4 linked regions of the Homo sapiens genome follow. The protein of the gene in region 2 interacts with the protein of the main gene of each other region in a pairwise test. Each region holds a gene or a part of one and is shown on either strand. Other genes may lie near its edges.

The links.
Region 1: the proteins of HSD17B11 (region 2) and HTATIP2 interact in binary tests that used the Homo sapiens proteins (3 or more experiments, as listed by UniProt).
Region 3: the proteins of HSD17B11 (region 2) and SLC25A46 interact in binary tests that used the Homo sapiens proteins (3 or more experiments, as listed by UniProt).
Region 4: the proteins of HSD17B11 (region 2) and SLC67A1 interact in binary tests that used the Homo sapiens proteins (3 or more experiments, as listed by UniProt).

The regions. Positions count from the first base shown.
Region 1 is NC_000011.10:20,359,041-20,366,733, forward strand, and holds the start of HTATIP2 (protein HTATIP2), read left to right. Parts: upstream 1-4,673; 5' UTR 4,674-4,771; coding exon of another isoform or gene 4,772-4,872; 5' UTR 4,873-5,196; coding exon of another isoform or gene 5,197-5,197; coding exon 5,198-5,392; intron 5,393-7,693. UniProt on the Homo sapiens protein: Represses translation by preventing reactivation of elongation factor eEF1A. May also inhibit nuclear import by competing with nuclear import substrates for binding to a subset of nuclear transport receptors.
Region 2 is NC_000004.12:87,353,186-87,360,206, forward strand, and holds part of HSD17B11 (estradiol 17-beta-dehydrogenase 11 precursor), read right to left. Parts: intron 4,232-7,021; coding exon 4,094-4,231; intron 1-4,093. UniProt on the Homo sapiens protein: Can convert androstan-3-alpha,17-beta-diol (3-alpha-diol) to androsterone in vitro, suggesting that it may participate in androgen metabolism during steroidogenesis.
Region 3 is NC_000005.10:110,734,099-110,742,015, forward strand, and holds the start of SLC25A46 (mitochondrial outer membrane protein SLC25A46), read left to right. Parts: upstream 1-4,908; 5' UTR 4,909-5,021; coding exon 5,022-5,304; intron 5,305-7,917. UniProt on the Homo sapiens protein: Transmembrane protein of the mitochondrial outer membrane that controls mitochondrial organization.
Region 4 is NC_000011.10:2,898,015-2,905,296, reverse strand, and holds the start of SLC67A1 (solute carrier family 67 member A1), read right to left. Parts: upstream 3,020-7,282; 5' UTR 2,933-3,019; exon of another isoform or gene 2,702-2,932; coding exon of another isoform or gene 2,579-2,701; intron 2,084-2,578; coding exon of another isoform or gene 1,952-2,083; coding exon 1,808-1,951; exon of another isoform or gene 1,722-1,807; intron 1-1,721. UniProt on the Homo sapiens protein: May act as a transporter of organic cations based on a proton efflux antiport mechanism. May play a role in the transport of chloroquine and quinidine-related compounds in kidney. Plays a role in the regulation of lipid metabolism.

The sequences.
Region 1 (7,693 bases), on a different chromosome or scaffold from region 2:
TCTTTCAGACACCTACCTTTACCAAATCCAACCTCTTATGTGCCCAACCAGATATCTTAGTCATGCTACAGTTATTTAAAGCTCTCATTTGTTAAAAAAAAAAAAAAATTATCTAGCATTCATATTTACAAATAAATGAGATAAATGGGGAACAAGTATAGCCACTTTAGATGCTATTTAACATCCGTTCTGTTTTCTTTCTATAATAGTGACCTCTACTTTCCTTGGGGACCTTACTTCCTCCCCTACTCCCAGACATGTGGGAAGAGATAGCCCCACCCGGCTTCATTCCCAGAGCCACAGTGACAATCATAAGGTTTAATCAGAACTAAGGAGATACAGCTGGGGACTTCTGCTTACAGTTATGCTCTTTCTACTGGACTTGAATCTAGGGGGATGTACTTGATAGCTTCAATCATCCATTCTCCTCATTTATCTACCTTATTGTATGCCCTGAAGAAAACTGGTCTGCACAATATAAGTTCCCTCTAGCTTCTGGTTGAATTTAGACAATGAAGAGTATGAGCAAGAGCACAGCCTTTGGGTCATCTTGCAGGGTCTGAGAGTAAGGCCGACGTGAAGGGAAATAGAGCCATGGTTGGCAGAGGGACTGGGTCCTGGCCCCATTGGCTGACTGGCTGATTCTGGTCATGCCAAGACTATTATATACACTGATTCTTTAGTTGCATGAGCCAGGACATTTCCTTTTTTTTTTTCCTCAAAACATTTTGAGTTTGGGGCTTCAAACACGTGAAACAGAGTCTTAATGAAGGTATAACTAAAAATATAGCTCTGAAGTGAAGATGCATGGATCCCTGATCCTGAGGACTCTAAATCTGACCTAAATACAGTTCCAGTCTCCCTAAGGCCCCATCCTACAGCAGATCCTGTTTTGAGATTTCTCTGAGATTCTGTCTCTCTTATACATGATTTATAGCCTTACAATATTACAATATTCACCATCTTTACTCGCCATGAGTCAGTTTGTTCCTTGGAGCAAAGCGAATGTAATGAAACAGTTCCCATCTTACAGATAGGGAAATGGAGGCCAAGATATATGAAGAGACTTCATCAAAGGCAAACCTGAACGTGGCAGGCAGGTCTCTGGCCAAGGATCTTTCCATGCCAGCTCCGTTTCTTTATGTCCCCTTTCCCTCCTTCCCTATGCTTTCCCCTTCCCCTTTGCCCTGAATTTTTGTGGTCCGGTTGCTCTAGGAGCCTAGGTCTTGTCACATTATCTCAGCACTTGGATGACATGGTTCCAGCTGTCAGAGAAGGAAAGGCATGGACTTGTTTTTCTCTGAGTTTCCTTCTATTTCTGTATGCTCATTTGGCCTTCAGCATGTGCCACCCTGTGAAAGTTTGGGGGATGTTTTATAATGTTGCTTAACTTTATTTAGCTTCCCAAGTATTTATGACTTGCCTTCAAGATGAGAGTGAATTTAGCTGGTGTCCCTGATTCACCTTGGAAAAATCTATTGTGCCTAGCACAGTATCTGGCTTGCATTAGATAATCAGTAAATATCCATTGACAAGATTGACTAAAAGAATCTTACATTAGGCAAAATGCTGGCTAAGCTGCTGTAACAAAATTACAGTGGCTCCAACATGACAGAAGTTGATTTTTCTCTCACTCCCCAGAGGTGTGCCGGCAGTCCAGGGTGGGCAGGCGGCTCTGTTCTATGAAGTCATCCAAGGGCTCCTTGCCCTGCTATCCTCTAGAGAGTGTCTTTCTCCTCATGGTCAGAGCTGGTTTACCAGTACATTCACATTCTGGCCTAAGCAAAGGGGGAAAGGGAAAGTGAAGGGAAAGGGAAAGTGAAAGGAAAGAAGGTAACTTCCTTATAAAGATGTGATTCAAATGTGCACATATTACCTCTGCTTGCTTCTCGTTGGCTAAATCACTGTCACGTGCTCGTGCTAGCTTGCAAGTGTGTTGTGGGAAGTCAGGGACCCCGAATGGAGGGACTGCCTGGAGCTCCGGCAGAGGAACATAAATTGTGAAGATTTCATGGACACTTATCGGTTCCCAAATAATACTTTTATAATTTCTTATGCCTGTCTTTACTTTAATCTCTTAATCCTGTTATCTTCGTAAGCTGAGGATATACGTCACCTCAGGACCACTATGATAACTGTATTAACTGTACAAATTGATTGTAAAACGTGTGTTTGAACAATATGAAATCAGTGCACCTTGAAAAAGAACAGAATAACAGCAATTTTTAGGGGACAAGGGAAGACAACCAAAAGGTCTGATTGCCTGCAGGGTCATTATATTATATATATATATATATATATATATATATATATATATATATATATACACACACACACACACATCTTATATATATATACACATTTTATATATATATATACACATTTTATATATATACACACATTATATATACACACACATTATATATATACACATTATATATACACATTATATATACACACATTATATATATACACATTTTATATATATATACACATTATATATATATATAAAACATTATATGTGTGTGTGTGTGTGTGTATATATATGTCCAAGAGTAATGAAAACATGTTACTGCAGAAAGACTGGTCCAATAATGTTCATAGGAGCCTTATTCATAATTAGCCAAAAGGTAGAAACAAACCAAATGTCCATCAACAGGAGAATATTTAAACATGTTGTGGGATATTCATACTGGAATACTGGAAGGCTACTCAGCAATAAAAAGGAATGAATTCCTGATACATGAAACAACCAGGGCTGATTTACTCATTTGGCACAGTAGGCACAGTTCTGGGGCCTGTGAAAATAAACTTTTAGGTGGAAGAAAATGTTTTAGGTGAAAGAAATTGTCATATTCATCTTTATAGCAACATAGTCATAAGACATAATTTTTGATTATATAAATAGTTTGTCATATTCATCTTTATAGCAACATAGTCATAAGACATAATTTTTGATTATATAGTGTGTGTACATAAAATGAAGGGGCTCATGAAGTGCTTAGGGCCCATAGAAATCATAATGCAGGCCTACAAACAAGAATAAATACTAAAATATGTGTTAAGCCAAAAACCTGGGACACAAAAGAGTACATGCTGTACTCTTAAATAGAATTCTACAACAGGCAAAACTAATCTATGTTGATAGTGACCAGAAAGTGATTACCTCTGGAGTGGGGAGAGATTGCAAGAAGGGAATGAAGGCACTTTCAGGGATGGCAGACATGCTCTATATCTTGTTTTTGGTGGTGGTTATTTAGGTGTATATACAATCTCCTAAAATCATGGAACAGAACCTTTAGGTTCTGTACATTTTATTGTATATTAATTATGCCACAATTTTAAACAAAGGGGAAGAATAGACAGGGTACAATGAATAATTTCTGTGACAGATTTGATAAATGAATTACTAGGACAGTGTTTGCTGACAAGGTTTAACATTGCATTCTTGTAGAAAACCTTTAGGAACTCAAAGGGAAGAGTCCAGGCACTGTGACAGGCCAGTGGGGAATGAACCACACTGCTCTATATTAATCAAGCTTTTTTATTGCAAACAACAGAATATATCTGGTAAGCTTATACAGCACAGGAATTTATCAGAAGAATAACAGGAAGTACTGTATTCACAACAGTCTCTGAAAACAGGCAGGAATTTAAGACAAGATCAGACCATCAGATGGCTGGTGGATCATATGATGCCATAATCCTATACCCTTGCCCCAACCAACCCACATATATCTCAGGCCTTCACTGCATCTTTTCATTACTCCTCCAAAACTGAAAACCTATGCGTGAGCCTCTGGCTTGCTGAGCCTAGGCAAAGCCTACATATAATAACTCCCATGGAGATGGAAGAGGCAATGTGTTTCATTGGCTTCTAGATGGGAGGTGGGGCCCCCAAATGACCAATGTTCCCAACAAAACCTGAACAATCTGAAATTATTCAGATTTCTGCTTGTCATTCTAACCTCTGTTCAGGACTTCCAAGATCCAGGACAGGCCCAGTGTAGATACCTGTGTCCCAAACCACTGATCTGGGCTAGGAAGACTGAATCACAGGTGTGGAAGGTCACCCGGGTTCAACCATCTAGGTGATGAATTAGGCCAGGACCTGGGCAGGTAGACCATTTATTCTGGGGAGATATGATGCGAGCTTGAATTACATGGGAGAAATATTTGTAAGGCAGATGGGATAACAGGACTTGATAAGTCTGTAGTGTGGAAAGGCTAGAAAAGAAAGGAATCAAAGGAATCCTGATTTCTGACTTGACAGGGTAGAAGGAGGTGTGTGTGTGTGTGCGTGTGTGTGTGTATGTTTATGTAGGGACAGTGACACCCAAGAGAGGCTAGGAATAGGTTTGTTTTATTCCTGTTTGGGGTGGTTGGGTAGGCAGGGTTAAGTTTTTGACTTGGTGAATTTGAGATGATGGCCAATATACAATTGACATTCCAGCTGGGGGGACCATTGAAGATCAAGTCTGGCAAGTCTACTAGCTGGCGCCTGGGTGAGCTGAGCCCAGCAGGTGAGGGAAAACGCGGGAAGAGGGTCTTGCAGATTCCAAACTTAGGAAGGGTCGCGGCTCCGCGCACGTGCTCTCGGGGTCACCTTCCCCGCGCCTGTGAGGGTGCCAGGAGTTCGTCTCCAGGTCCCGCCCCTGTGGGCGGGGCGAGGCAGCGTCGCCGCGAGGCCACCCGGAAGACCAAGCCGGGTAGGCGCTGTCTCCGTCGCCTCCAACCCCCCCGGTCCGACCAGGGAAGGTGGGATGCTCTGATGGCCGGGCCTGCGGCGCTGAGCGCGGCGGCGGCGGCTGCTCTGGCGGCCGCCCTGCTCCTGCTGCGTCGTGAGGACCCGGGGCCGGGGGCTGGCCCCAGGTAACCCCTCCGCGTATGGGACCGAGCTGGGCCAGGTCTCCTGGCCGGGCCGGGGATACCGTGGGGTATGCCCAGTGATGCCAGCAGCTTGTGGCACCTGGGCGCACCCTCCAGCTCGGGCCCCTTCCGATGGGTCTGCTGGCTCAGGTGCGGGCGATGGCCGGGGAGCCGCGCCCCGCACGTGACTCAGCACTTTCCCCAGAGCCCGGACTGCGGAGAACAATATCCTCCTCCCTAACAGATAAACAGCCCTTGTTCCTCGGGATAAGGACTGGCAGTCCCCTGACACCCTAAGACCGGCATCTGTCGATGTTATTTCCCCAGCATGGCCGAAACAGAAGCCCTGTCGAAGCTTCGGGAAGACTTCAGGATGCAGAATAAATCCGTCTTTATTTTGGGCGCCAGCGGAGAAACCGGCAGAGTGCTCTTAAAGGAAATCCTGGAGCAGGGCCTGTTTTCCAAAGTCACGCTCATTGGCCGGAGGAAGCTCACCTTCGACGAGGAAGCTTATAAAAATGTGGTGGGTATTTCAGCTGGGACTCAAATGGACCCCCAGGATTCTGCGAGGTGAACATATTTCATGCCTAAAGGCTGAATACTGCCCTGCCAGTGGTGGGGGTAGTGAGAGGCCATCAAAACTTGGCCAAGATTGGTCTGTGAGAGTCCCTCCCAGAAGTCTGACTCCTGGATTGTAGCCCAGGTGTGCCTCCCTCCCGCTCATTGTGTGGTCTTGGGCAAAGCCCTTCTCTCCATCTGCAACCCTATAAAGCTGGGTCTGGGTTGTAATGGGGGTGGGGGCTGGTGAGACAGAAGAGCACTGTTTTCAGGGTCATACAAGCTGTATTCTAGAGGCAGCCCTGGTGACCTTGAGAATTTTCTCAGCCACTTTGCTGATTTTGTCAACCTGCGCACTTCACACTAATATTGTCAGGGATTCTGAAACTGCTTTGCAGAGTGAGATAGGTCTATGGCAGTGAAAGGTGGGATTATTCACTTACAAGAATTTGCCCTGCCTGACTTCCCAGGCTTGTGTCTGTAAATCGGATATTCCCTTCACTCTAAGTTAAAGGTTTTTTTTTTTTTTTTTCTGAGACGGAGTCTCACTCTGTCCCCCAGGCTGGAGTGCAGTGGCACGATCTCGGCTCAGTGCAACCTCTGCCTTTCAGGTTCAAGCGATTCTTCTGCCTCAGCCTCCCGAGTAACTGGAACTACAGGCGTGCGTCACCACTCCTGGCTAACTTTTGTATTTTTAGTAGAGACGAGACAAGGTTTCACCATGTTGGCCAGGCTGGTCTCGAACTCTTGACCTCAGATGATGCTCCCGCTTCAGCCTCCCAAAGTGCTGCGATTACAGGCGTGAGCCACCGCGCCCAGCCTAAGTTACACTTTTATGATTATAGGAATGATATACCAGACTTCTGTCTTGTCATGACCCCCTAAATATCAGAAGCCTGAGTTTCTTGGAGATTCTGTTCTTTATTTAAAGGGAATTATCTGTGAACTGCAACAAATTAACATAGTGTGATCTCAAGACACCACAGCTACAGAATTTGGCCCCACAGGTTTCATAGAAAGAACATTTCAAATAACAAGCCATCTTGCAAATAAATGTTCTTGATTCTCGCAGGTCTGTGTTCAGGTCATGGTGTGAATGCCTTTGGTCCATCAAGTCTTGTTTATTTAAAACAGACATCTTTCCTCAGGCTGAGGCAGATGTGTTCTCACCGGTTTCATGGGCTGTGTCAGATATTCATGGTAATTAGAAGCTGAAACTGAAGGCTGGGCGTGGTGGCTCATGCCTGTAATCCCAGAGCTTTGGGAGTCCGAGGCAGGGGATCTCTTGAGGTCAAGAGTTCCAGACCAGCCTGGCCAACATGGTGAAACCCTGTCTCTACTAAAAATACAGAAATTAGCTGGGCGTGGTGGTGCACGCCTGTAATCTCAGCTACTCAGGAGGCGGAGGTGCGAGAATCACTTGAACCCAGGAGATGGAGGTTGCAGTGAGCAGAAATTGTGCCACTGCACTCCAGCCTGGGTGACAGAGCGAGACTCTGTCTCAAAAAAAAAAAAAAAAAAAGAAAAGAAACAAATTGAAATCTGTGTTTTGAGTGTCGAGTTTTGGTGGCACATCTGTTTGACTAGGTACTTTGTGAAACCCTATTTTTCTTTTTCTTTTCTTTTCTTTTCTTTTTTTTTTTTTTTTTTTTGAGATGGAGTCTCACTCTGTCGCCCAGTCTGGAGTGCAGTGGTGCGATCTCAGCTCACTGCAAGCTCCGCTTCCTGGGTTCACGCCATTCTCCTGCCTCAGCCTCCCGAGTAGCTGCAACTACAGGTGCCTACCACCACAACCGGCTAATTTTTTTTTTGCATTTTTAGTAGAGACGGGGTTTCACCATGTTAGCCAGGATGGTCTCGATCTCCTGACCTCGTGATCCACCCACCTCAGCCTCCCAAAGTGCTGGGATTAACAGTGAAACCCTATTTTTCTTTAGTGTCATAGGCAGTGCCAGAAAAATTCTTTTCAGAGTTGACAGTAAGGATGGAAACCAACATTTTATCGGAGTTCTTGGATGATAGGAATTTATCATGCTTTCTTTTTTAAGTTATACAGCAAACTGATAAGGTTAGATGGAGGTTCGTAAACTTCTGTGTGCATGAGAATTAAGGTGGGTGCTTGTTAAAAGTGCAGATTCTGATTCAGAACTATTGGTGTGGGATGTAGGAATATGCCTTTTTATTAAGCACTCCCTGACTAATTATAATGCAAATGGTTCATGGATTGGACTGAAGGAAAGATTATCACCCCCATTTTACAGCTGAA
Region 2 (7,021 bases):
TCCTCGGGCACACATATTTTCACTTTTGGATAATTATCTCCCTCAGGTAGATTCATAAAGGGGGATTACTGGGCCAAAGGGTATATAACTTGTAATTTAATTTCTCTAAACCTCAGATCTCTCTCATCTACTGAAGAGGGACTAATAACATCTCCCCAAAAGTATTGTTGTGAGGTTTAAGAAAATGACATTTTATTTGGTGTCTGAAATGTAAACAGGTATTTAACGAGGAACATGTTCTCTCTTCTAATTAGAAGTAATAAGTTTCTATATTAAAACCAACTTCATCTTTGGGGTCTACTTTAGTACCAGCTTAGCCTCAAAGAGGTTCATATGTCAGGACCAATCTTTAGGCCCTTCCTTAGCCAGGTTTATATTCAGCCTAGAATCATCTTAGCCTCTTTTCACACTTTTCCTCCAGAGTGCAAATCAGTGCAGCATTTCTGGAGAGGAGTTTGGCAATATGTAGGAATTAATGGCACTAGTAAGTTTTGTCAGGAGAGGGCGCTGGAGCCCACGTTAAGGTCAGCTCTGTGCGGCCTTGTAGGGGGGGCAAGGTTAAAAAATTCAATTATAACTTTTGAAAATAGGATGTCTGTTTTTAACTACTGAAAGACAGTATGACTTTAAAACTTGACTCAAATATGTTATTTTAGTATCCACATACTGAAAAAGAAATTGAGGAAACTGGCAAGTTTTATCTTCAACATCTGCTTTCAGTTTTAGTGAAGCTTATCCTCACTACTTTCATTCCTCAGATCCATTTCCCAACCTGAAAAACATATCTGTCCCTTCTCTTCTCTCTTCAGACTCCAATTAGGGTTCTCTTGTTTAATACTGATAAATTTAAACATTGACCTCTAAAATATACACTCTTACTTTTGTTTTCTAACAAAAATTGTGTATTAAAAATAGATTTTAAAGACTGTTTGATAGATTCTTGGGGGCTTGAGATCTTTGGACAGCTCCCAAATTTCTGTCTAACGTTGGCTTTCTGTTCTGCTTCCCTGTGGGATGACTTAAATTAAGTGTGTTTAAAATAGAACCTGGCGGCCGTGGATCAGCTGTCAAGAGTTCGAGACCAGCCTGACCAATATGATGAAACTCCGTCTCCACTAAAAAAATAATAATAATAATAAAATAGAACTGTTAGGCCAGGCATGGTGACTCATGCCTGTAATCCCAGCACTTTGAGAGGCTGAAGTTGGGAGAATGACTTGAGCCCAGGAGTTCAATTGAGTTCAAGGAGCCCTTGAGCCCAGCCTGTGCAACATAGGGAGACCCTGTCTCTACAAAAAATTTAGAAATTAGCCAGGTGTGGGGACACATGCCTGTATGGTCCCAGGGACTGGGGAGGCTGATGTGGGAGAATAGGTTGAGCCCAGGAGGTCAAGGCTGCAGCGAGCTGTGATTGTGCCACTGCATCCAGCCTGGGTGACAGAGCGAATCCTTGTCTCAAAAAAAATAAAAAAAATAAAAAAAGGAAAAAAATTAGAATCTTCAATTTTACCTTCAAATTAACCCTTCAAGTGGCCACACTGAATATTTTTCATTAATTTTAAATACATTTTCAACAAAGGCAGCTGAATTGGGGGAAATATGGGGAAGTTTGAGGGGGCAGAATAAAACTTAAAAATTGAATCTTGGCTGGATGCAATGACTCATGCTTATAATCTTGGCACTTTGGGAGGTGAGGTGGAGGTGGGAGAATTGCTCAAGGCCAATTTGAGACCAGCCTGGGCAAACAGCAAAATCCTGGCTCTCAAAAAAAAAAAAAAAAAAAAAAATTAGCTGGGCATGATGGCACACACACTGTAGTCCTACTCAGGAGGCTGAGGTGGAGGGTTGCTTGAGCCCAGTTCAAGGTTACAGTGAGCCATGATCACACCACTGCACTTCAGCCTAAATGAGACCCTGTCTGAAAAACAAAACAAAACCAAGCAAAATTGAATCTCATCATTACAATAAAATTGAGAATCCAAAAGTCTATCCAAGTAAGCATGTGAACTTATAATATGAATTTAATATCAGTGAGGAAAATGATGTATTATTTAATAAATAGTGCAGAAAACTCATTAACTATTTGGAAAAAACTATACTGTGACCTTACTTCTTAAATCAAAATAAATTTGGGTGGGGCAATGATTTAAATATGAAAAATGCAACCATAAAATATATGCTAGAAAAAATATGGGTAAATATTTTCAAAAACTTGGAATGAGAAAGACCTTTCTAAACACCTCACAGAACCTAAAGTCCATGAGAAAAAAATCCCTAAGAAAATTTTAATGTAAAACTAAATGAAAATAGGCTTAAAAGCAAACAAAAAACAACTGGGGAAAAAAAAAACATATGCAACAGATGTGATATATAAAGGGGTTTCTCAAATGTATGAAGAATTGTTTCTTATGTATTAATTAAAAATCTCTAGAGCTCAGCTGGGCATGGTGGCTCATGCCTGTAATCCCAGCACTTTGGGAGGCCAAGGTGGGCGGATCACTTGAGGCCTGGAGTTTGAGAACAGCCTGGCCAACGTGGCGAAACCCCATCTCTATTAAAAATACGGAAATTAGTTGGGCGTGGTCGTGCGTGCCTGTAATCTCAGATACTCGGGAGGCTGAGGCACAAGAGTCGCTTGAACCTGGGAGGTGGAGGTTGCAGTGAGCCGAGATTGCGCCACTGCACTCCAGCCTGGGCAACAGAGTGAAACCCTGTCTCAAAAAAAACAAAAAACAAACAAAGAAACAAACAAAAACAACTCTAGAGCTCAATAGCAAAAAGTGAGCTGATGCCATGAAAATAGGCAATTCATAAAAGGAAGTGCAATGTCCAAAAATCATATGCGAACATGAATGTAGCTAGTCATCAGGGTAAAAACAAAGATGATTCTTCGCGTACTGGATTGGCGGTGATTAAAAGAGTCACAGAAGGCAGACTGATGAAGAAGTAGAGAGTAAGTTGCTCTCCCTGCACTGTGGGTAGGAGTGCAAATCAGTGGAGCATTTCTGGAGAGGAGTTTGGCAATATGTAGGAATTTTTACAAGTTATATACCCTTTGGCCCAGTAATCCCCCTTTATGAATCTACCTGAGGGAGATAATTATCCAAAAGTGAAAATATGTGTGCCCGAGGATGCTTATTGCTGATTTGCTGTTAAAAATCCAGAACACTAAAAACAACCCTAAAATCATCACTAGGAGATGCTATTGCTCCCAATAATCAATACAATTTATTATAATGCTCTGTACTTTATTAGATGTCTGTAACATAATGCTGAGGGAAGTATGCAGTATACTTGCTGCTTCCAGGACCCCATGTGTAACATACGCCAGTTATAGAAAATTCAGAGAAGTCTAGAAGGATGTTTATCAAAATTTTGAGAGTGGTTTCCACTCAATAGAGGGTTTTAAGGAAATTAAAAAAGAAACTTTTCGATTTGTATTTTTCATTAACATTGGAATTTAAACAAATAAGTATGCATCATGTTTACAAAGACATTAAAGCTATTTCTAAAGAGAGAAAACATTAAAAATTATCTTCAAATTAATCCTTTATAATTTTATTTTTTAACCAAGTAAAGAGTATGATCTGGTACTCCTTTCGGAGGCTAATCTCTAGATTACCTCCAAGGGAAGTGTTTTTCACATGTGGTCTTGGGTTATCTCTATCAGAATCACCTATGATAATCACCTTTTTTAAATGTAGAGTTCCAGGCTCCCTTCCCTGCCACTACCCTACCCCAACCAAACCCAGTAAGTCAACATATCTGAGGGTGAAGCCCCAACATAGTTCCCAAGCACACCTGGTGACATGTATGCATATTTAAGCCTGTGAATCATTACTCAGGAGAAGAAAAAAGGAAGAGTTAGCAAGTTTACCAATGTCATTCATATTTACTTTTTTAGTCACGCTCCCTTGCTTTCTCTCTTTTTGGCTTTCCACCTGTTTTCCCACAATCTGCAGAAACTGAAATCAAAATGAACTAAGAGCTTTAACTATCAGGTGTTTTCAGGATTAAAACATTTAGGAAAACCCACAGAATGGCTGGTATTCATAGCAACCACCAATCCTTTTGTCTCAATTTCTCAACTTACCTTGTACTTGGATTTTTGATGAAGCCAGTGTTTACGAAATTAGGACACAGACATGTTGTTTTGACTCCAGTTATTTGTAAGGCAGCCAGTTCATCTGTCAAAGTTTTATGAAATCCAACAGCAGCAAACTTGCTTGAACTGAAAATAGAGAGTTTACAAAATAATTCAAGAATTCTGAAATGTCTGCCTGTTTTCCTCAGTTCAGCATGGTCCTCTGCAGAGCAATGTGGGCATTCCCTGAGTCTCAGGCCCCAGCCCAGAGCTACTGCATCAGAGCCCACATCTTACAAGATTCTCAGGTAAATCTGTAGGCACATTAAGGTCCAAGAAGCCCTGACATAGAAGATTTACTGCATCTTAGCATCACTTACGGAATAAGAACATTTCCTTAAAAAGCCTTTTAAAGAAAATTAGTAGAGTATTTGTTTTTGTTGTTGTTCCACAAAATTCAGTGTCACTATAAGCTGTTCCTTATTTACTTTAAGATGTCCATAGAATTTGCTGAAAACTTTTCCTGGATAAATCCTATTCTTCCTTTAAGTCACAGCTTCACTTCCTCAAAGAGGCCTTTCCTAACCCCCAGTCTAAATTATTTTCTCATTATATAGTAATTTTCAGTTTTCTATGATAGTATCTATCTCAGATTTGTAACTGAACATTCATTAGAGAAATTTTTTTTTTTTTTTTTTTTTTTTTTTTTTGAGACAGAGTCTTGCTCTGTCACCCAGGCTGGAGTGCGGTGGTGCGATCTCGGCTCACTGCAAGCTCCGCCTCCCGGGTTCCCGCCATTCTCCTGCCTCAGCCTCCGCAGTAGCTGGGACTACAGGCGCCCGCCACCATGCTCGGCTAATTTTTTGTATTTTTAGTAGAGACGGGTTTTCACCATGTTAGCCAGGATGGTCTCGATTTCCTGACCTCGTGATCTGCCCACCTCGGCCTCCCAAAGTGCTGGCATTACAGGCGTGAGCCACCACGCCCAGCTGAGATTAAATTTTTTAAAACATCTGTTTCCCACACCTTTCCTATAAGCTCCATGACTGTTTTGGTCACCAGTGAATCTCCAGGGCCCAGCACAGTGCTTGGCTCTTAGGTGCTCAATGAATATTTGTCAAATGAATGAATCACAATGCAAAGCGTTTATTTTAACAGCTCTTTCATTTGGAAGTAGTAGTGAAATTACTTATTCTAAATGGACATTACTTTCTCAGGTTTTTTTAATTTAAAAAGGGCTTTATTGAGATATAAATTCATATGTCACACAAAGCATTCACTTAATGTACACAATTAAATGGTTTTTGATATATAATTAACTTAAAAGTTGTGGTATAATATATATCATGTAAAACATGTCATTTTAACCATTTTTAAGTGTGCAATTCAGTGGCAATAATTATCAGATAATCTTTTATTCTGTTAAATCTGTATGAATTAGCAATTACACAAAGTAGCTATACATTCTGGCCAGTTAATCTATGCTTTGGAAGACAGAAAGCTGTGGAAATTTTTTAAAAAATTTTAAAAAAAATTTCTTACCTTTTTAAAAAAAGTTTAGGCACTTATTGAAGCTGATATGGTTTGGCTGTGTCCCCACCCAAATCTCATCAACAATTGTAATCCGAATTGTAATCCCCACATGTTGAGGGAGGGCACTGGTGGGAGGTGACTGGATCGTGGGGGCAGTTTTCCCCATGCTGTTCTCGTGATAGTGGGGGAGTTCTCACAAGATCTGATGGTTTTTTAGGTGTTTGGCAGTTCGTCTCTTGCTCTTACTCTCTCTCGCTGTCTCTCTCCTGCTGCCATTTAAGACATGCCTGCTTCCCCTTCCTCTGTAATTGTAAGTTTCCTGAGGCCTCCCCAGCCACGCAGAACTGTGAGTCAATTGAACCTCTTTCCTTTATAAATTGGCCAGTCTTGGGCAGTTATTTATAGCAGGGTGAGAGGGGACTAATACAGAAGGCTTAAAAGAAAGATTGTTAGATTAAATTATATGAGATTAAAAGCTTCTGTATACTGAAAAACAACATAAATAAAAATCAGATCTAAAATAGATTACTAAGTGCTAGACATTGCCCTCAGTTATTCTGATGCATTTTGGAGTTTTTTGGGGAGTCTTTATCTGTCACTTAGGCTGGAGTGCAGTGATGCAATCATAGCTCACTTCAACCTAGGAACTTCTGTGCTCAAGCAATCCTATCACCTCAGCCTCCCAAGTAGCTGGGACTACAGGCATGTGCCACAACACTTGAATAATTATTTTACTTTATTGTAGAGATGTGGGTCTCGCTACGTTGCATAGGCTGGTTTCAAACTCCTGGGGTTAAGTCATACTTTTGCCTCAGTCTCTCACGGCGCTGGGATTATAAGTGTGAGCCACAGTACCTGGCCTATTCTAAATAATTATTTTGTTTAATCTTCATAATACCCCTATAAAATATATTAAGATCCTCATTTACCAAAGAGGAAACTGAGGTAAAGATGGGTTATCAAACTTGCCTGAAGATACAAAACAAAGTGGCAGAATCAGGTTTTACGTGTGGGTAGTAAACCAGGTTTATATATGATATATTCTAAACTTTATTAACTCCAAGCAAATTAAGAGGCAAGTGACAAACTGGTAAAGCATTTGCAACATATAAGACAAGGATAAGGTTAATATATGGCAACTTTTATAAAGGAATAAGACAATACTCTAATAGATAAATGGCTAAAGGGCATTCATGGAAAAATCATAATATAAAAATGCCAGTAGATGTAGGCATATAAAAATGATTTACTTTAGGAATAATTCATATAAAAGCAAAGTAAAACAAGACGGAATTCTTGCCTAGCAGTAATTATAAGGACAGAAATTTTCATCTGAGTTTTTTTCAATGTACAGATATTTCACCTCATATAATTGAATCTAGCAATCTTTTCTTTTTAAGGCTT
Region 3 (7,917 bases), on a different chromosome or scaffold from region 2:
TGCATAAGCATCATGTTAGTCACCTATCACCAAAATAATCTTAGTGGTTTAAAATACAAGTATTTATTTTTCTCATTCACTCCTCTGCGTGCAGGTTGGCTAGATTTTGGTGATGTTGGCTGGGTTCACCTGGGATTGTCCCCAGAATTCCAGCTGGGTTCAGGTCTGCTCCAAATATCTCCTTCTGGAGCCCAGAGTGAAGGGGTAGTGGTTATTCAGGAGGTGCTTCTCATGGTTATGGCAGAAGCCCAAGCGGGCAAGCCAACTGAGCAAAGCCTCTGTTTGGGTCACACCTGCTAACTAACACCTTTCTGCCCAAGGATATCACTCTACCAACTACCCAAAGGGCAGGAAAGTCCACTCTGCCCATCATGAGGCTATGACAAGGGTATGGACATACAGTATAATACTATGGTAGAGGGATGAAAAATTAAGTCCAATAATTCGGGAATCACCATCTTCTGAACATAAATGCTATAGCCTATCAAGTAGAAAAAGAATAAACTCGGCAATTAAGAAAATTTATACCCAATTCACAATTTAAAATATTCTTGGTTGCTTCCATTTACTGTGTGTGTCCCATTAAGTGTGTAGATGTTAAATATGCTTTGCCTAACTTCCCTAACAATGTAATCAGGATCAAATGCACCATAGTGGATTGTTATATCACATCATTTTACAAAAACAAAAGAAAACAAAAACACCTCTATTGTTTGAAAGATATTTTTAAAATTGCTTATTTCAAGTTATTTTACATGTAAAATATTTAAAATATTACTAAATTTCACCTTTTAAAATACTTACCAGGCAGGGCGCAGTGGCTCACTCCTGTAATCCCAGCACTTTGGGAGACCGAGGTGGGCAGATTGCTTGAGCCAGTTCAAGACCAGCCTTGGCAACACAGTGATGCCCTGTCTCTAAAAAAGATATAAATAAAATAGTGTATAGTTGCATCACAGTACCCAATACAGTGGTTTACACATAGTAGGTGCTTAATATATGTTGCTGAGTGAATTCTTGAATAAAAAATATAGGTGATTTTTATTTTATCCTGTGAGCTGAATTTATTTAGCATCAGAATTTTTGAGCAAAATGTTAACATAAATGAATGACTTGCTTGCTCTGCACAGGCACTTTTGTTTGGTAGGACCATAGCATTCTGTGCCAACTCTTGAAAACTGTTGAAACAATCTGCAACTTTTCATTTGTATTTCAACTCAACAATAATAATGACTGGACTTTCGAAAATATGTATTAAGCCCGTTGGGGGGTGGTTATACTATTTCTATCATATTATTTTCAAGGAAAATTAATCCTTTATTTACTAAGGAACAAAGTAAAAAACTATATTATTCTGTTAATATTTGGGCTAAAAATTTCCTTATTATTAGTTTTGGTGCCTAATAATATCCTCCACCCATTAATTGTTATATAGTGATTTAATATTTTAGTCATTTTAATGATATAAATGCTATTGTTTGATAATCCTCCCTTTAAAAGATAGAGTCAAATCCTCTTCCCCTTTAAGTGCAGGGTTGGACTTAGTGACTCTCTTCCAAAAAAATAGAACATGGCAGAAGTGATGAGGTGTAATTAGGTCATAAACGACATTGTGTTTCCCCCTTGCTGTCTGTCTCCCAGCTGTTAAGTCATAAGGACATTCAAGATGTTCTATGAACTTCATGTGGCAAGGAATTGAAACCTCATTAACAGCAATCAGCAAGAAATAAAGACATTCTTTCTATAGCTGTCTGAGTAAGAGATCTTAGAAGGGGATCCTCCAGCCCTAATCAAACTCAGTCATGTCTAAAATGACTGCATTCCAAGTAGAAGTCTTAACTAGAACCTCATGGGAAACCTAAGGCAGAACTATCCAGCGAAGCCACTCTGAAATTTTTAAATTACAGAAACTATGAGATATTAAATGTTGTTTTAAGCTGCCCAATTTGTTATGGGGGTAATTCATTGTGCCACAATAGAAACTAATACAAACATTCTGTTGTTTTCATAAAATGCATTGGCCACTTTATAAATTCATGTTTTAATTCCTGTGTTATGAGTTTCTCAAACTAGTTTGAAGCAATAAACTCTGGACGATTTCAGCATAATTATTTTAGAAATATTTTGGAGAAATACAGGATGATAGAGCTTTCATAGTGCTCTAGAGACTACTGATTAAATGATATGAACAGATTTAGTAATCTAGAAAGATCTTTATTGCTGTGTCTGCCCATAACCAAATTTGCTCTAATTTTTTTCTAAAATAATTTTTCTTCTTACAAAAAAAAGCTAAGTTTTTAGAGCAATTAAATAAAAAGTGAAACTATGCAAGCCCGTGCTCAGACATAATACTATCATTTTAGCACATTCTTCTATTGTGTATCTTTAGTAGAATTTTTAAAAGGTAAGTTCATACTGTACATGTTTTAAATTGAACATGAATATTTTCATGTCATTTAATACTCATCTCTAATGTAATCTATAAACATCTTCACTCTAAACCCTTCTCATCTCCATTACACTATCACTCGAGATGAAATTATTACTATTTTTTGCCTCAGCTGCTTGCCTTTAGTAGGTGGAAGCCTTTACTCTTCCCCATACAGAGCCAGGTGGATTCCTATAAAACATCAATACAGTCACATTACTCCTCTACTCTCAAAAAACCTAAATTTTGTTCACCACCGACAAGGCTTTGCAAGATCTGGCACCTAGCCTCCTTTCAGCTCTCATTTCCTATCACTTTCACCCTTTCTCACTGGCTACCTAGTTTGCTATCGGGGCGTTTCTCTTGCTCAGCTCTGCCTGGAAAACTTCTCCCACATATTCACAAATGGCTCACTCCCTCACTTCATTCAGTTCTCTGCTCAAAGGTCACTTCTTCAGAGAGGACTTCCTTATTCTAAAAAAAAAAAAAAAAAGCTTCCTTTATTGCTCACTTAGGCTTTTTTAATACAATCATGTCATTATTTGACATTGCACTATATTTGACAGGATATATTTATCTGTTCTTTGTCTCCCTAAACTAGAATGTCAGTTCTAACAATGCAAGCACCTTGTCTGGCTTATTTATCATTCTATCCTTATTGCTTAAAATAGTATCTGACACGAGATAGGTGCTTAATAAATATATTTTTGTTAAACAACTGTATGGATATACACTTTAAATAATAAATTATTAATCAATAATAATTATTTGATATTTGCATTCCTGCTTATTTTTTTCCTATTATGAGCAAGCATGCCATAAACATATGTATGTTATCCATGCCAGAAACATGTAAAAAACCCCTATATTTGTTTTCTAAGATTTTGGAGTCAAAAAATATGGTTATTTTTACAGTTTTTGATACATAGTGCCAAACTGCTCTCCATCAGAAAGTTATGTTTTATATCACTTCAGAAATTAATGAAAGCTACTTTCTTCTCACCTGGAAAGACAATGTGCATTTTCCCTTTTAAACACCTTAATACGTGAAAGATAATTAAGATTTACCTTTTTTCAATTAGTAAAGGACTTTTTATATGATATTATCTATTTACACTTCCTTTTTTTGTATGAATTGCCTCTACATGTCCTTTGCTCATATTTCTGATTTGCCTTTATTCATTGGTATGAACTCTTTGTACATTAAAGCTACTGTTCCATTGTTTAAACCATGTTAAAATGTCATTTTTCTGTTTGTGATTTGCCTTTCAATTGTGATTACTATATATTTTAAAATTTACTATATGGACATTTAAATTTTATACAGTCAAGAGACTCAACACCTTTGCCCAAGCTGCATCGCAATCAAATTTAAGAATGTCAATTCGTTATTTAAAAATGTTAATTATACATTTTAATGTACGCTATCAAAATATCTCATGTAACCCATAAATATATACACCTACTATACACCCATAAAAAATAAAAAGTGATAAAACCACAGAAAAAAATGTCAGTTCAATCAAAACAAAGTTGATTATCACTCTCAATCAAGGTTCGCATCTGGAAGATCGAGAACTGCACGTCAGAGTTCTCTTGGAAAAGCTCTAGGAATCCTGGGCTTCCAACGAGTTGAAGGAACATAGGATGAAACCATGGAAGTCTTCCTCAGATCTGGGGAGGGAGCCTGGCCCAAGAGCCCGTGGAGCTAATGAAAACAGGTAGTAGGGGACGCTCTACAGTAGTCCTCTCAGTTATTCAATTAGAGGTCCCAATTTTGAACGATATAACTGGGATTTCAATACCCTGAGTGATTTAGACACATCAGAAAAAAATACGACAGAAAACTATAGTTTCTTTACAGCCTTAGAAAAGGAAAACGCGTAATTTCTAACTCCAGGAGGACAGTATTCGAGTACGTGGGTTTCTTTCACCCCCGACGTGCACTTCAACTTTTAAAATGCTTGCTCTGGTGGTCCACAGTACTTTCGCGTTCACTGGGCGGTACCATATCTCTCAATAGATTTGATCCAAAACCCCAAGTGCGGGAGACAAAGCTAGGTGGAACGTTATTAACCCTCCACAACTCCAACCTCTACTAGCTTCCTCGGAGCAGGCGAGGCACCAGGCCCGTGAGAAAACACTGAGATCTGGGGCGTAGCTGTGACATGGGGTATTTCTGGCCGGGATCTCACCGGGTAGGCTCCACCCGCGGGTTATCGGCTCCCTCCAAGAAGCATCTTTGAACTCCTCCCATGCAGGCCCTATTCCTACACCAGTTCTCTTTCTGGAATCTCTTTGGTACTGTGTTTCATTAATCCCACAACCATATTCCCACCTATTCCCTAACGACAACAAACTTTTAAGGTCCAGGTTACCGCCGCGTCTCCCTAGCAACCGTGCCCTTTAATGGTTGCCGGAAGAGGCTATAATCACGTGCTCCGAAGACTTCCGGGTTTCCAACGTGACTTCCGGTTGTCAGAATTTACCCCTGACGCGGCGGCGGCCGACGGGAAGCTGTGTGTGCTTAGGTCGTGGTGGCCCCGGTGGTGGTGGGCTCCGGGCGGGCTCGCGTCATCCTGCCCCCGCTGCGATGCATCCGCGGCGCCCGGACGGATTTGATGGCTTGGGCTACCGGGGTGGTGCCCGGGACGAGCAGGGCTTTGGCGGCGCCTTCCCTGCAAGGTCCTTCAGCACCGGGTCGGACCTGGGCCACTGGGTGACGACTCCCCCAGATATCCCCGGCAGCCGCAACCTGCACTGGGGCGAGAAGAGCCCGCCCTACGGCGTGCCCACCACCTCCACCCCGTACGAAGGCCCCACGGAGGAACCCTTTTCCAGTGGCGGCGGCGGCAGTGTGCAGGGGCAGAGCAGTGGTGAGAAGCATGGGGACCGACACAGGGATGAGGGGTTACTGGGGCCGCGGCTTGCGGCCTGCAGACCCCGGAAGCGGCGCAGAGGATCCCGCCTCCTATTCCTTCTCATCCTATCGCGCGCCACACCCTTTGCCCTCCTTTGGTCCTCTGCCCCTGAGGCTGGCCTCCTCTTCCTCACAAACGAATTCTCCTGGATCAACTCCAAAAAAGACATCTGCCTTAGCTATGGGGTGCATAGCAGGAATTTTTAGAGGTTTTGGTGTCTCAACTGATGGTCTGAGTTAAAAAGGAGATTGGATTATTAACTGTTCCCTGATTCACTTTGGCAGCTCTATTTTCTTGATTTAATTAATTAATTAATGTGTTTACTTGTAGTTTTGTGTTCTGAAAAGAGAAGCCTTTCAGCATAAGCATACTTGGGTTCAAACTTGGTTGTGCCACTCGTAATCTGAACAACTTAACCTCTGTGAGCCCTCAGTTTTCTCATCTTTAAGATGTGTAGAAGAATCCTGTATGGGACACATAGGCTAAAAAAAAAAAGTTTCCTTCCTTTTCCTTTTTGAACACAGGAGTTTTGTCTGCTTTTCAGATCCCCAGTCTAGAAAGTTTCCTTCCTATAATTTTCCTTTCTGCTTTCCTTCTGCTGACCTAAAAACTACATATAAAAGTTAGAAACACTGATACAATTTCAAGATAGGACTTCGGAATCATGACATAATTATTCTCCATGGGATGTCAGAAAAGCTGCAACACTGCATGATGTAGATATTTTCAACATCCTTTTTTATTCATAAAATGTGAATAATGGCTACCTCTTTCTATTCTTCTGGAATTGTTAGAATAATAGATTAATGGTATTAATATTAAATTTATTGTAGAAATCAGCTTTATTCTTATTTCCTCGACTTTGACTTGGAAGTACAATAATATTTAACTAAGAAGAACAGACTAACGAATGTCTAGTGAGTAAATGAGGATGTGAAGAAAGATAGATGACTTACCTAGCTAATTGTCATACAATTAGCTTTTTGACTCTTCCCGGTTTAAAGTTATGCTTTGGTGGTTACAATGAGGAGGAGTTCCTTGACACAAGCAGGGGTTTATTTTGCAGCCTTAACAGGTGGGTGAATGTTAATTTTGCAACAAAGATAGACACCTAAGAGACTTACACAGTAAACAAGATTAAACCTTCCTAACACCTTCCAGAAAATGCTAGTAGCATTTTCTGTTGCTATTTGGGGATGATCTATACATACAAAATGGGTAAGGCCGGGCGTGGTGGCTCACGCCTGTAATCCTAGCACTTTGGGAGGCCAAGGCGGGCGGATCACGAGGTCAGGAGATCGAGACCATCCTGGCTAACACGATGAAACCCCGTCTCCACTAAAAAATAGAAAAAATTAGCCGGGCGTGGTGGCGGATGCCTGTAGTCCCAGCTACTCGGGAGGCTGAGGCAGGAGAATGGCGTGAACCCGGGAGGCGGAGCTTGCAGTGAGCCGAGATCGCGTCACTGCACTCCAGCCTGGGCGACAGAGCGAGACTCCGTCTCAAAACAAACAAAAAAAGGTAAAATCTAAGGTAAAAGTACCGTAGGTGGGTAAAAGAAGCTTTCTATTTAGCTTATACATTTTTCTAGGGTAAACTGCGTAATTTCCCAGGAACATGCTTAGGTGGCCTTGTTCTGATTGAAAGGGAATAGTGAGGGCAGTTGCTTCACTTGAAAGAGAAGAGGAGAGAAAGAATTGTAACTTGTGAATATTGTATTATAGTTAGAATTTGATGTCTGGTCCCCTGGGGTTGTAATAGTTCACCACTATGACTTTGAGTTTAGTCAAGAAGAAAGGCTTTTCTCTTTTGACATATGCATAGGAATGTTCCCAGCTGTGAACTTTTCCAGTAACATAACAGACATACCATCTGTAGTAGCATTTAGGTATCCAGTAACCTACTCCAATTAATTAAACAGCTAGCCTCAAACTATTTAAAACTTGAAGAGATGGGGGAGAGCTGTATTTACCCATTTTGGTTATCCCTAAGTACCCTTTCAAGTTAATAATTTAGAGGTGCTTTACTTGTAGTTATTGGTTTAATAAAGTGCTCTCCGTCAGTAACAGTGAATAACTAGTTTTACAGCATAAGAGGTAAAGTCGCAGGTGGAATATCAGCTGCGGCCAACCATGGAAAATTTTTTATTTGATTGGAATCAGAAGCTGAAAACTGGTAGCCCTTAGGTTCTGTCCGGATATTTGTTTCATTAGGCCAAGACAATGTGTTAACAGTTTTTGAAATAGTTGTCCAGGACTTTAAAATTGGAAGCTTTTATATAAAATGAGAATATCTTTTTTTGAAAAAATTACAACTTCAAAACCCTGGGCCCACACTCTAATGTGGCAACAATGAATTGGAGTGAAAGCGTAATTGTGCTTTAAACACTCTACACCTTGCAATTTGCCACAGACCCCAGCAGAGTCCTTCATTCATTTAAATTATTTACCTGGCCCCTATCAGAATTTGACTTTGAGGTTTAAATGAACAGCAGGTTAATAAAATAAATTTTTTAAAATTGTTTTGAGACTAAACCTAAATTGTCAGTAATTGGTTATCAGTAATCTT
Region 4 (7,282 bases), on a different chromosome or scaffold from region 2:
GGGCTGTGCTGGGTCCTTTGCCCCTCCTCCATCACCACTGCCAGTTCCCCCAGCTCATCCGACCTCCAGCCTCCCTGCCCTCTGGGGGAGCCCAGCCCATGACCGTCTCCATGCTGCAGGGCCCCAGAGCCTCTGTGCTGAACTGCCTTGTGTCCAGCTCCCTTCGGCTCTCCACTGGGGTCGAAAATCGTCTCAAACTCAACCCGTCCCCAACTGGGCTCCCATCTTTCCCTCTCCTCCTGTCCATGCCTCCTTCCTTATGGGCTCAGGCCCAGATCTTCAGTGCTCCCTGAGCCCTGCTTTCTCTCACACCCACTACAGTCCATTGACAACACATGCAAAATCCAGCCACCTCTCACCTCCTCCACAGCCATCACCAGCCCGGAGTTCTTTGAGCAGCAGGTGGGGTGTGGTCCCATTCTGGCCTCAACCGGTCCACTCTAGCCACTCTGCTCTCTCCACTGCCCCGGGGCCTCTCCTGCTTCCTTCCAGCCCTGCTCCAAGGTTGCCTTCTCTATGAGGAAGACCTCGCCCCCTTCCCACTGCAGCCCCTGTGCGTGTGGACCCCCAGCTCCGAGGGAGTGGGCTGTTGAGGATTTTTACACTCTGCAATATTTCAGGTTCTGACATCAGGGTCAGCTCCTGGGCACTCAGCACGGAGTTACTCCCCATGAGAGTCGATGGGTGGCTGAAGCCACTCCACCTGTGCTCTGTGCCCAGCTGTGGGAAGGGTTCTGACTTCTCATTCACTCTTCCCCGCACCAATCCTACAGGGAGGGACTGTTATTACCCATTTTATGATGAGAAAAGCAAGGCTCCTGCCCAGCCTTCCCCACGGGTAGGGAGGAGATTCAGGGCTTGGCCCCAGCCATTTAGCAGGAGTGGGCGGGGCGCCTGAGGCACGGCGGGGAGGGATCCTTAGGCTCACCCTCGGGCTGGGAGCCTCTGCCAGGCCCGGAATGGTGCCAAAGGCCCATCCCCACTCCCGCCTAGATGCCCAGGTCCAGGCTCTGAGGGCTGAGAGGAGGAGGGCAGCTGTCTGAGCCCACGCACGCCGGGCTTCCCAGAAGCAAACACAGGAAGGGCCGAGGTTGGCCCTGACTCTGCCTGAGCTTCTTGGTGATGTGAGACTTTGTTCCCAAGCCTCTCCAGACTTGGTGAATATAATTTAATCATTACTATTACAGCTTCCAGAGCCACACACTGTGGTATAGACTACTGAATGATACACTAAACTAACATGAATTTGCCAATGAAATGTTTCCGCATTTGGCAACAGAGATAATAAAATAAGACAGCATTCTATCTCTTGCAAGAAAAAGCTTGAGATCAATTTGCCGCCACAGATCATTTAGTGGACAACAAGGACCCAAGAAGATGGAGGGGAGAGATAGAAGCTGCGGGCAGGTGCAAGGAGAGCCTCTCTGAGGGGTGATCCGCCCAGAGCCACACCGGATTGAACAGCCCTTGGGGCAGGGACTCCAGAGGGCAAAGGCTGCCGGGTGAGAGGCAGGAGGAACAGCGCTAGGAAGGTTTGAGGAGGTGCTGCCCCCAGGAGGGAAGTGGGGTGGCTCCCCATGGCTTCTCCCGGGGCTGGCACTGAAGCTGGAGCACAGGATGTGCTGACGGGGGTCCAGAGGCAGAGTCCTTAACTTACTCAGCTTAAGCGTGGCATGAGTCCCAACTGGGAGGGGCCCTGGCAGCATGAAACCCCCACCCCCACTCTCTGCGACGGCCCAGATGGAGGGCAGGAGGAACAGCGGTTCAGCCCTGGCTGGGGCTGCAGGGGCTGGGGTGTGTTACTCACTGGCACGATGGAGAACTGCATGAAGAGGCAGGTAAGTTCTGTGGCGGCCAGCACGTAGGTAAGCAAGATGACCGAGGACCGGCCTAGAGCGCTCATCCTGCCGGGGGACCGGCCCTGGTCCCTGGGAGCCCGAGCTCCCTGCATCCTGGACAGGCGCAGCAGGGAGACCCAGGAGAGATCCAAGCAGGAGGCTGGCGGAGCAGGGGGCAAAAGTCCAGTTGATCCGGGCAGGGGTGCTGAGTCACTGGGTCCCAGGCAGCACCCGCCTGGCCTTGCCTGCAAGAGAGGACAGCACTGCAGGACCCCCTCCCCAGTGGAGCTCTCCTGCTACCTGGACCTTAGAGGACACATCAGGGGGTCCCCCTCCTCCACTTTTGACAGCTCTGGTCTCCAGGCACACAGCCTCCCGGGGAGGGGAGACAGGGACAAGCTGCTCCCCCCGACCCCTGCAGGTGGGCCAGGCTCAGTGCCTGGTTGCCTGACACAGGAATGTGCCATGCCCCACTTTTAGAGGGAGGCAGAGGCTCGGAGTGGTGGCTGAGTCCACCTCAAATCATCAGCGCCTTCTGTGGCCAGAGGGCTGATGTGGGTCCCTGTGCCTGGAGGCCCTCCGTAGGCCCACAGTGGCCCTGTCCCCAACACAGTGCAGCTCTCAGGGAAGGTCTACCTTCCCCTGTGGCCAGCAGCCAGAGCTCCAAGGGGCTTCTGGAATGGTCTTGCGTAGGGGAGACATAGCTCAGCCTTCCAGGCTCCCCAGTAGCTCTGCCTTACCTCCCACAGCGGAGTGCTGTCTGTCCCCACCCTTCCCCGCCCGGCCTCCAACTGGTGGGAACTGGATTTTGCGGCTGCAGAGGACTTCCCCAAATTTTGCCACATTAACAGCTGACTGCACATCTGAGCCCCGAGGTACCGAACCCAGGCTGGTGGGGTAGGGCGGGGAGACCCCTGAGGGTCCGGGAGCTGCGCCTGGCGCCCTCCCCCATCCCGGGATGCAGGGAGGCTGGGGGGAGCAGGGCAGCCGCAGCAGGCACGTCAGGGGCACCTCATTGGGCAGAGGTGCGACGCTGCGCCGGAGTTCGGGGTTCGGGGCTCAGAGGCCGCCCTCTCCGGAGTGTGCTCGAGTACCTGCCTTTGCAGGGGCGGGCTTGGGCACGGGTGCCGGTGGGGTGAGCGCTCCAGGGTGACCTAGACACCGGTCCTTCCGGGATGAGCCCCGGCCCCGCCCTTTCGGGAGATGACTTGCAACAGGGACCGCCCCTCTGGGTCTGAGTTCCAGCCCTCGCGCTTTGCAATCGCCAGTTCCGGGAGCGCCCGTGCCACGGTTTCTGCGCTCTCACTGGCCGAGCCCGCCCCTCCCCTCGAAGGACCCGCCCCTGCCCCGCCCACCAGCGGGCTCGCCCCGTGCCCGGCTTCGCCCGCCCCAGCCCCCTCCAGCTTGAATCCTGCCCGGTGCCCGGGCTGCTGGAGGTGGACACTCTGACCCTCAGGCAGCACCGGTGTCCACTTTGGGCCTGAGGAGGGGCAGTGTGGGCAGGGGATGGGACCGGGAGGTGGAGGGAAGGAGAGAATGGAGGGGAGGCAGGGGCGGGGAGAGAAAAGCGGAGGAATGGTGGTGAGGGGTTAGGGGAAGAAGTCAGGGGAGGTTGTAGAGGGTGTGGTGTAGCCTGGCCCTGCCAAAGGTCTGCACAGAGCCCCAGAAGAGTGACCAGGAGACAGCTCTGGGCCCCTCCTCACTTCCCTCCCCAGACCCGGAGGCTGCTAGGAGCAGTTGAGAGCCCACTTTTCCCCATTTCACCCTGCCTGCCACTTCCCCACCCTTGCAGGGGCCACCAGAGATGCCAGCACACAGGTAAACAAGCCTCATGCCGCCCTCCGCAGCAGGAGCCGCTGGAGCACACACACCCCACGCTGCGCACACTTGGCCCAAGCCCTGCCCTTGGCCTGGGCACCATTCTCCGTGCCCCTGACTGTCACTAAGTAGGGAGATGCTCATTCAGGACTCCTGCCCCACCTCCTCCCCAGGCAAGGGCTGGGCACAGGCTCAAATGTCAAAACCAGTGTCCCCCTGCCATGTGTCAATCATCGCTCCACAGAGCAGAAAACTGCAGGGGTGAGACAGGGTGGGACGGACATCGCAGAGGCGAGCGAGAGCCGGCCAAAGTCCTGGTGGGCAGGGGGGCCAGAGCCAGGTGGCCCAAGGCCGGCTGGCTAAGCCATTCCAAGTCACCGTGGGAGTGGTTCAGCAGCTACCCTTCGTTCAGCAGCTCAGATATGTTGGGCATCAGAAAACAATACCCCAAAATGAAGGCCTCAGAAGCAGCTTCGGAAGAAAAAGTGTTTCTCTGACCTTCTCTTGCTCTCCTGTCTCTCAGTGCCATTTTCCCCGAAGCTGGCCTTAGAAACTGGAATCCATTTTCCCCAGGGCAGGTCATAGAAATCAGAACCCCGCCTTTCCACACAGCCAGACATCAAACCTAAAAATATTGCTCTAACTTTCCCTCCACCTTTGTGTTTAGAAGCTGGCCATAAATTATCTGACCTCTCTTGTTTGACTGTAGGGCATAAGACCCCATTCCAGGAGGGTCCTGCTCCATGCCCAGAAGGAAGGAATGCTGCTCAGAAAGTTCAAGAAATCTAGACCAACAGCCCTCGCTGCGCTTCCCCTTGCGGTCCAGGAGCATTAGTGCAGGTCCCTTGGTTCATCTGTGTTCCCGCATGGATGTCCATACTTTGTTGAGCCTAAGCATCAGAAATGGCAATTTCCCCCATATCTTTTTTTTTTTTTTTTTTTTTTTTTGAGACGGAGTCTTGCTCTGTCACCCAGGCTGAAGTGCAGTGGCGCGATCTCGGCTCGCTGCAAGCTCCGCCTCCCGGGTTCACGCCATTCTCCTGCCTCAGCCTCCCGAGTAGCTGGGACTACAGGCGCCCGCCACAGCCCCCGCTAATTTTTTTGTATTTTTAGTAGAGACGGAGTTTCACCGTGTTAGCCAGGATGGTCTCGATCTCCTGACCTCGTGATCCGCCCCCCCTCGGCCTCCCAAAGTGCTGGGATTACAGGCGTGAGCCACCGCGCCCAGCCTGTTTCCCCCATATCTTTGGGTCTTTGTTCTGAAAACTCCCATTCACACACGTCAATCAATTTGGGGACCAAATGCCTTTTGTCCAATCAATCTGCCCTCTGTGAGGTGGTTTCTTAGCAAGCCCACGGGTGCAGTGTACCGCTCGAGGGGATTCCAGCCCAAAGAGTGCAAACGTGTTTGCATCTGGAGTGCGTGTCCCCAGATCCTCTGCCAAGCTCGTTTTCAAGAATAGTCACCACTGGCCGCCCTGGGGACTTGGGGAGAGTGCAGTCAAGCCGAGAGCCCAGGTCCAGCCAGAGTTTCCTGGAAGGACTGCACAGAAAGGCCGGCTGTGTAAGGTGGGGGTGGGTGACAGGAGTCTCAGAGTGTCTTAGATTTGGGACTCCTGGGGGAGGATGGGCATCCACATGAACCCTTACTCAATGGGGCAGGTGTGAGGGACTGTCCCCAACAGGTTCCAGACGCCTCCTGGGTTCCCTGGGGAGGGCTTAGAGGATGAAGCGGCAGGAGGAGATGGGATGAGTTACCAAACTGCCCAGAGGTGTGCGAGGGAGGCTGAGGGTCCTCTGGCGCTGAGGTGTGGTGGAGATGCTGGAAACTTACCACTGTCTTCCTCCAGGTGAAGCAGGGCCTCAGGTAGCCAGGGAACTGGTTGAGCAGAGGAAATCGGAGAGACCTTTTTTTTTGTCATGAACAGGCTCAGTGTGAATGGGGGAACTTCCTGGTTCTGAGGGAATGTGGGAAAATTGCCCTTTAGGCTGGGTGAAGAAGAAAGCAAGTGGAACCCTGGCACCCCTGGACTTCCTCCTCCAGAGGAAGCGGCTTTGGTTGTGGGCCAGCGAGCCTGTGCGTCCCCAGCCCCAGGGCATTCACCGCTTCAGAGAAGCAAGGCGACAGTTCTGCCGGATGAGAGGATCCAGGCTGACTGGAGGAAGGAAGGGCTTTGGCTCATCTGGGCTCAGGTTTGGGAGAGGTGGCTTCTCAGAGGAGGTGATGCCTCAGCCAGTCTTAAAGGTGAGCACGGATTGTTTGGGTATGGGAAGGGCATCCTGGCTGAGAGAATAGCATAGATAACGGCTTAGAGGTGAGCCCAGGCTTGGAGTGTTCAGGAAGCTGAGCCACTGGAAGGGGCTGGGACCAAGGGTGTACAGTGGGGTGACGGGGCAGAAAGTGAGTCTAGAGAGAGGGGTGACCCTGGGAGCGCTGGGCAGGGACACAGCCAGACGTGCACTGAGAAGTATTGCTCTGAACACTGCATCCTGGAGGCTGGGACCTCTGAGGGGTCTCCCGAATGAGAGGAGGCCAGCTTCAGAGCTGACCCCTGCCTACACCACTGCCTGGACATTTGAAATGGCTTTGGGCCTATCTTAACCCGACACACATTTATTAAGCACCTACTGTGTGCATGCCCCATGCCAGCTGTTTGGGACGTCAGCTGGCAAAGCTGACCGCCTGGTGGTAGCTTGCATCATTAGAGTGCATGTGCAGGCTTCGGGGAGGCACATGATCCCGGGTCACCACAATGCCTAAGGAAATGACTCACTGCCTATGAGCACTTGAGTTCTTCCTGTGTGTGCAGTGGACGCCGCTGCAGGGTTCTGAGCCCCTTCTGTTCTCCAAGGAGCCTCTGGCTGATGTGCTGATGAGGGGTTGAGGGGAGGGGCAGTGCAGGAGGTCTCTGCTGTGGTCCAGATGAGAGGTGGTGTGGACTTGGATGGGGCATGGGGGGATTTGAGGGGCAGGTTTGGAACCTCCCTGGAAGGAGGCCTGACAGGCTTCCTGCTGGTTGGGGCCTGGGCTGAGAGGGCCAACTGAGGGGGCCTTCAGGTGCGGCTGGGGGCGACATGAGGGGAGGCAACCCTGCAGGTCCATCCACGGGAGGGGCCTGTGGGCCAGCAGAGAGGGCAGAGTGTGCAGTGTGCAGTTTGCGGCATGTGGTCTGAGCTGGACGTGAGGGTGTCATTGACACTCATGTCCTGTTTAGAGCTCCCACCCTGGATGAGATGACCAGGAGTGGATGGGGCTAGAGAGGAGAGGGGCCAAGGGCCAAGGCTGGACCCCAGCATGAGGAGGAGGTGCCCAGGGTTCTGACCAGGGAAAGGGAGGGAAAAATAAAGGAGCTGGGTCTGGAGAGAGAGGCAGGTAAGCGAGTGAAGGCCTGGGAGCTTCCCTGGGGCCGAGAGCTGGAGTCACTGGTGGCTTTGGCAAGAGCGTCATGAGCATGGGGGCTGACCCTCGGGATTCAAGCAGGAGGAATGGGCTGGACACCCTTCTGAAGGGTTTTGCACCAAAAGGGGGCTGAGAAATGGGACTGTGGCTGGAGGGGAAGTGGGATGAAGAGAGAGAACCTTTGTTTACAATTTTAAGATTTAAAAGAGTGATGCTGCAGAGAACG